Homo sapiens: one gene and its partner. The protein of the gene in region 1 purifies or fractionates together with the protein of each later gene. This does not show direct contact. Each region holds a gene or a part of one and is shown in the gene's direction. Other genes may lie near its edges.

Evidence for each region. Proteins that work in one complex are often made in the same cells at the same time.
Region 2: the proteins of SYTL4 (region 1) and STX2 purify together in Homo sapiens (affinity purification with mass spectrometry, with the first as the bait; one study listed by BioGRID). This does not show direct contact.

Annotation. Positions count from the first base shown.
Region 1 is NC_000023.11:100,701,122-100,704,621, reverse strand, and holds part of SYTL4 (synaptotagmin-like protein 4), read left to right. Parts: intron 1-1,436; 5' UTR 1,437-1,529; intron 1,530-2,514; 5' UTR 2,515-2,584; coding exon 2,585-2,694; intron 2,695-2,948; coding exon 2,949-3,164; intron 3,165-3,292; coding exon 3,293-3,402; intron 3,403-3,500. UniProt on the Homo sapiens protein: Modulates exocytosis of dense-core granules and secretion of hormones in the pancreas and the pituitary. Interacts with vesicles containing negatively charged phospholipids in a Ca(2+)-independent manner.
Region 2 is NC_000012.12:130,797,751-130,801,250, reverse strand, and holds part of STX2 (syntaxin-2), read left to right. Parts: coding exon 1-98; intron 99-2,060; exon of another isoform or gene 2,061-2,083; intron 2,084-2,615; coding exon 2,616-2,726; coding exon of another isoform or gene 2,727-2,750; exon of another isoform or gene 2,751-2,861; intron 2,862-3,336; coding exon of another isoform or gene 3,337-3,408; exon of another isoform or gene 3,409-3,491; intron 3,492-3,500.

The DNA of each region.
Region 1 (3,500 bases):
AACTTTTTGCCTTACTTCCAAACCTGTTTCTTTCCTTACATCTTCTATTGCTATGAGGGCTGTCACTAGCCAGTCAGTTGTTTAATCTTGACTGTGAACTAGGCATCTTTGACTTCACCTTCTTCATCCTCTCTGCTCAGTCAGTCTCCCTATTCTGTCAATTCTACTTCTCAAACCTATTCTGTTTTTTCTTGCTGCCTGGCTCAGGCCTTTATCATTTTAGAAGATTCAGCAAGTATTTGTACTCCAAACATTGTGATTGGCCCTTTAACACACATTATTTAATTTTTTAAACAACGTTTGAGGTGGGTCGTTTTGTAGATGAGAAACCAAAGAGTCAGAAATAAAATGACTTCTGCTGGGCACGGTGGCTCTGTCTATAGTTCCAGCTACTTGGGAGGCTGAGGCAGGAAGATCACTTGAGCCCAGGAATTTGAGTCCAGGCTGGGCAACATAGTGAAACTCTGTCTCTAAAAATGAAAAATAAAATGAAATGAAAAATAAAATGACTGGTCTAATTGTTTAGAGGCACAGTTAGTAAATCTAGATTGTCTTTTGCTGCAGTATTGTAATAATATCTCTGCCTCATTTGTATTGTTTTCTTTTTTGAGATATAAATGGAAGATATATGTAAAAACAAATTAGAACTATGTGAAGTAAAAAGTGAAAGTTGCCCCTTCCCAATTCTACTCCCCAAGGGAAACCAATGATAGTGGCTTTTGTTCTAGACCTTTCTCTTTGCATATACAAATATTTAGATAAATTCTTTATAAAAGATCATTTTTTATTGTCCTACAACTACTTTTTCACTCATGGCCATATTTTTATGTCAGTACGTGTGTATCTACCACATTTTTAATGGCGACATAATGTTCCATTATGGGGACATATTATTTTGTTTAATGATTCCTATGTTAAATAACTGTTTCTGTTCTTACAAATAATGTTGCAGTAATAGTCTTGTGCATATACTCTTGCTTGTGCATTTGTATGAATATTTCTATTAGGTAAATTCTTAGAAGTCATATTGCTTGGTTAAGTATATGCCTATTTTAAATGTATGTACTACCAAATTGTCCTCTGATTTGTCCTCTAAATCAGTCTTTCATATTATAACTAGAGCGATATAGCTATAATATGTCTTTGTAAAGTGAATTTCATCATGTGATTTCCCAGCATCAAAAAGCAACATCAGAGATGTTTGGTGGATTTCTATTGTCTATGCAGTAAATTTTAAAATTAAAAAAAATTTTTTCCAGACAGGATCTTGCTTTGTTGCCCAGGCTAGAGTGGGCCACATGTGATGGCGTGATCTCAGCTCACTGTAGCCTCAACCTCACAGGCTCAAACAATCCTCCCACTTCAGCCTCCCGAGTAGCTGGGAATGCAGCCGTGTACCATCATGGCTAGCTAAGTTTTGATTTTTCTTTTTGTAGAGACTGAGTCGCCCTGTGTTGCCCAGGCTGGTCTTGAACTCCTAGGCTCAAGAGATCCTCCTGCCTCAGCCTCCCAAAGTGCTGGGATTACAGGTGAGAGCCTCCATGCTGAGCCAAAATTCTTAAAATTTTAAAAAAGTTTTTAAGAGTTATGTAATCTGGTCCCAAACTATCTTTCCTACCATTCTTCCCTACCAGGAAATTTGTCCTCTGATAAGGCAAAATCCACCTCTTCTGTGAAATTTCCCATGTATACTGCTCTCTTTCCTCTCTCTATGCAAGATAGAATGAGTTGCTTTCTTCCCTAAGTTCTCATAGCACTTAATTTATAGTCCCTTATAATCCCTCTGATAGCACTTAATGCGTTGTACTGTATTTATGTGTGTCTGTCTCCCCTGCTACTCTGTGATTTTCATAAGGGTAGGAACTGTGCCTTACTCATCTTTGTATCCCCAGCACTTTACACAATGCCTGTCAGCGTAGTGCTCAACAAGTGTTCATGAATTTGGGAAAGATATCCTGGAGGTAGTGCTAGAGTGCTAGTATGATAAGAACTTTGAGAGATAGAGTAGGGGGTGGAAGTTTTGAAGTATAGCAGAAAGCTGACTGACTCCTGGGAGAATGGAAGCTGGTTAGGAATAGACAACTGGGCTTAAACTGGCAGGAGCCTTCATGTGCTTTTCTCCTTCACTGCAGAGACCAGCTGCCTGGTTATTTGGGTTAATAGGCTTGAGATTTGAGAACATTTAAAGTATTAAAAATTGGATGATTGAGGACTCACTTGGTGGAGGGGGAGATTGACTCAGCTGTTCTATGTTCTTTCCAGACTAAGATGCATATACTGAATAACCAATCCTTTTCCCAGAGTCACGAATAACTTTTTCTTTCTGAAAAATCAAGGACTCTTCATTTTCAGGGCATGTTTCGGATGGGAGTAGGAAGACTAAATAGGTCAGATACTTCTACTTTGTCTCTTTAGCTTGGCTCAAGGGGAAAGGAACCTATTGAAAGGGTTTAGGGCTGTGGGCCTATTCTTGAGTAAATCATCTGTGTGAAATTAGTTCTTTTGTCATTTCAGGCAACTCTGGTAGCTCTCCTTGTCTGGTTGTTTTGAAGAAAGAAGAGTAGAAGAAAAAGTTGAGTAAATCATGTCGGAGTTACTGGACCTTTCTTTTCTGTCTGAGGAGGAAAAGGATTTGATTCTCAGTGTTCTACAGCGAGATGAAGAGGTCCGGAAAGCAGATGAGAAAAGGATTAGGTAAGAGTTCCCCAAAACGCATGGGGTCCCAGGCCTTTGACCAATGATGTCTGGGCTTTTCCTTATGTCTCCCACCTGACTTTCATAGGAATTTGTATATGTGATGTTTACCACTACTTATTGGGTCACGCTGGGCTCTGAGTTTGTTGCTTCCACAGAACCAAATAGTCTTACTGTCTTTACCTCTCAACCCCTCTCCATCCAATCTATGCATATCCTGAATCCACTTACGCTTCTGTTTTGGGTCTTGGCAGGCGACTAAAGAATGAGTTACTGGAGATAAAAAGGAAAGGGGCCAAGAGGGGCAGCCAACACTACAGTGATCGGACCTGTGCCCGGTGCCAGGAGAGCCTGGGCCGTTTGAGTCCCAAAACCAATACTTGTCGGGGTTGTAATCACCTGGTGTGTCGGGACTGCCGCATACAGGAAAGCAATGGTACCTGGAGGTGCAAGGTGTGCGCCAAGGAAATGTGAGTGTCACCTATGGCTGAGTAGAGAGGGGGCGAGGCCTTGGCCGTGGTGAGAATTTCTTTCCTCAGCCTTTATTAGACAAGAACCATTCTTTATCCATCTGTCATTTTCTTTTATTTCTTCCCAGAGAGTTGAAGAAAGCAACTGGGGACTGGTTTTATGACCAGAAAGTGAATCGCTTTGCTTACCGCACAGGTAGTGAGATAATCAGGATGTCCCTGCGCCACAAACCTGCAGGTACTGGACCTGTCTAGAGATGGTTCTTGGTATGGAATCCTAGTGTATTCTGACTGGTAGCATCTTAACTCCATGGGCTCAGCCAGTTAGTGGAGAAT
Region 2 (3,500 bases), on another chromosome or scaffold:
AAATCGAGTCACGTCACAAGGACATCATGAAGCTGGAGACCAGCATCCGAGAGTTGCATGAGATGTTCATGGACATGGCTATGTTTGTGGAGACTCAGGTAGTTACAGACTCTTGCATTCTCCAAGAGAGATATCAGTCATGTGTAAAATCTTACTGCATCCCACTCTGTCTAGTGGATGTATCTAGGAAAGCTGTTATTTTGGATCCACCAAATTCAGGTTAATTGCAGTGTTATATGTGATGCTGAAATGCTGGAAGCAGCTTTAACAGTTGAACTGTTAACAGGAAGGGACTGGTTCAGTTGATTAAATTATGGAGTGTTCATAGGTCAGCCTTTTAGGCAACCATAGGCAACCTAAACTTTGTTCATGGAGAATTCTTACTGAAATATGCAGATGTTTGTGCTAGAATTAAGAGAAAAGGGAGATACAAAGATCTTCTGTGTATGCCCGTACATATGTATGAGTACATAAACACAAACACATGGCACGAGCTTGGCTCCATAAAACAGTATCCACAGAAGGAAAGGCGTATATCAAACAGTGTAATGGCAGTGAGACTATGGGAATTTTAATCTTCTCTAAAAGTATTTATTTTCAGATTTTCTATAAGAAGCATATATTACAGTAATAACTAGGAGAAATGTCTGAAAGAATCAACCCCAAGTGGGGATACAATCTATGACACAGATGCAAGCTTGTGCCTGTTACACGGGGTTTCCCATCTGCCCAGTAACACAGATAGGGAGTGAAAGCAGGTGTGGAAAGGCCCTTCTGAGTGAACCGAAGAGTTAATGCAATTCTTAATAAATAGAAAACTCCTCTGGGAGGCTGAGGTGGGAGGATTGTTTATGCCCATGAGTTCAAGGCTGTGGTGAGCTATGATCATGCCACTACACTCCAGCCTGGGTGACAGAGTGAGACCCTGTCTCCAAAAAAAAAAAAAAAAAATACACACATATATATGTATGTATGTATATATTGAACTCTCCATGTAAAGTACGGGATGGATCACAGATCACATGCTCTGTGATGTGCATGGGTATGTTCACACTCGCTCTTTGTCTTTGAATAAGGTCTTCTCGTTATTTTTCAAATACCATGGAGATAAGACTCTGTTGCTGGTTAGGATTCAGCTGACCACCAGGTGAAGCGGAAGCATTTATATCAAACCATCCTAAGTAAATGGTTTCCTCACTTGTCCTGAGCCTGGTTTCGGATCTGTTTTGGCTGGAGTCATCCCCTAAGTAGGTTCACATCTGATGGGCTTATTTTCTGAGACTGCCTGGATTGTGTAAGGATAGGAATCCATCCACACACAGGATTGTTCCTGCCTGCTTCAGCAACCTTGTTAAGAAACACTGTATTTTGAAGAACTTTATAATGAGAATGTGTGTGAAAAACTCAGGCACCATGCCTATTTTTTTTTTTTTTTTTGAGACAGGGTCTTGCTCTGTTGCCCAGGTTGGAGTGCAGTGGTACAATCTTGGCTCACTGCAACCTCTGCCTCCTGGGCTCAAGCAGTTCTCCTACCTCAGCCTCCCGAGTAGCTGGGACCACAGGTTTGCACCACTACGCCCGGCTAATGTTTGTATGTATAAGCATTTGCTAGAGGAAACCAACAGCTACACAGAGGGCAGGGATGGGACGATCTTACTCCTTTTTGATTTTGGGGGCCCCGTTGCCATTCATTATATGGTAAGTGGAGTGTGGGGAGTCTGATTACCATTGGTTACTTATTTCCAGGAAGCATTCCAAAGGAAACCAGCTGGACAGAAAGAACGAGAGATGATTTCTGTAATTACTAAAGCTTTTGTAGTACCTTAGACTTCAATTGTAATTGCTCTATACCAAATGCATTGCATTAAGCTCCGTTAGAAAAATGGCTGCATCCCTGGCTTTGTTTCACTGTTTCCTTTTAGAAGTCTGTTGGTATTGCATTATATTGACTCATCTAATGCAAATGTGTGCATAGTCAGAGATTACTAGTAAGTTGAAGTTTGTGACTGAGTGAGTTAACTCTCCGTCATTCTTCAATGCTTTACGATTCACTGCTGCAGGTTGTGTCTGGACAGACAACCAGGTAATACGTTACCTCCCTCACACTTTGCTGAATTCACCTCTGTTTACATTTTGCTCATTAATGTAGTCAGCTGAGTGTCAGATGTGAGCTATGCTCAGTTTACTGATTTAAAGAAGTAGTTACAATTTTCTACTTTGTGGAAAAGATGTCATTCTTTGTATATTGTCTGTCTGTGCATAATGGTAAAATACTAGTTCAACCAAAAGCTGGCTGCCTCCCTTCACCCTGCCCATCTGTCGAAAGTGTCTGCGTGTTAAAGGTATCTCAGAATTGACTTGAGGTGCCTTTAATTATCAACATGGTGGCCCATTCCTTTTCATTCTTTTTAAAATATAAATTGAGTTTTGATTGCTTTGCACTGGCACATGTATAATGGCCTCATCTTTTATCTTTCTGTAAATGTGAAAAAAACCCTCAGTATCCATTACATGCACATCGTGTTTATATAAAACCTTTGTTCTATGGTTGTCTTAAAGATACATGATTAAGCCATTTGAAAATGTCTTCTAAGTTTGAAACTTTTTGTTTTAAGGGTGAAATGATCAACAACATAGAAAGAAATGTTATGAATGCCACAGACTATGTAGAACACGCTAAAGAAGAAACAAAAAAAGCTATCAAATATCAGAGCAAGGCAAGAAGGGTGAGTTTGGCTTCGAAGAATTAAGCTGCGTTTTTCTCTTCATTTGGTTTCAAGTTGTAATACATTGATGTAAGCCTGCCTAAAAGGTATTCCAAGAAATAATTAATTAATAAATGTTTTATTTTAAAATGGAAATAATTTTTTTTGCTAAAAATTTAAAAGGTTTATTAGATGAATTATTTGTAGTTCATCTTTTGTGTTCTAAGTAATTGAAACCCTAGGGCTGGGTGTGGTGGCACGCCTGTAATCCCAGCACTTTTTTTTTTTTTTTTTTGAATTGGAGTTTCGCTCTTGTTGCCCAGGCTAGTAGAGTGCAATGGAGTGATCTTGGCTCACTGCAACCTCCACCTCCCGGGTTCAAGTGATTCTCCTGCCTCAGTCTCCTGAGTAGCAGGGATTACAGGCACCCGCCACCATGCCAGGCTAATTTTGTATTTTCAGTAGAGAGAGGGTTTCACCATGTTGGCCAGGCTGGTCTTGAACTCGTGACCTCAAGTGATCCGCCCATCTCGGCCTTCCAAAGTGCTGGGATTACAGGCGTGAGGCACGGTGCCTGGCACCAAATTGTTGGCTACACATTTGATGCAGTGAACATTTATTTTTAATTTAGGTTATTCGTGACTTCTTGGTTTGGAGGAAAGAAGAGAATTATTTGAGACCGTGGACCTGCAGTCTTAGGTAGCACCCACTTAAAGGGATCCTCAAAAGAAGGGAACCCCTTTCACTCAAGATGCACAGACTTTGCATTAAAAAGGGTTCAGGGAACCCTGTGTG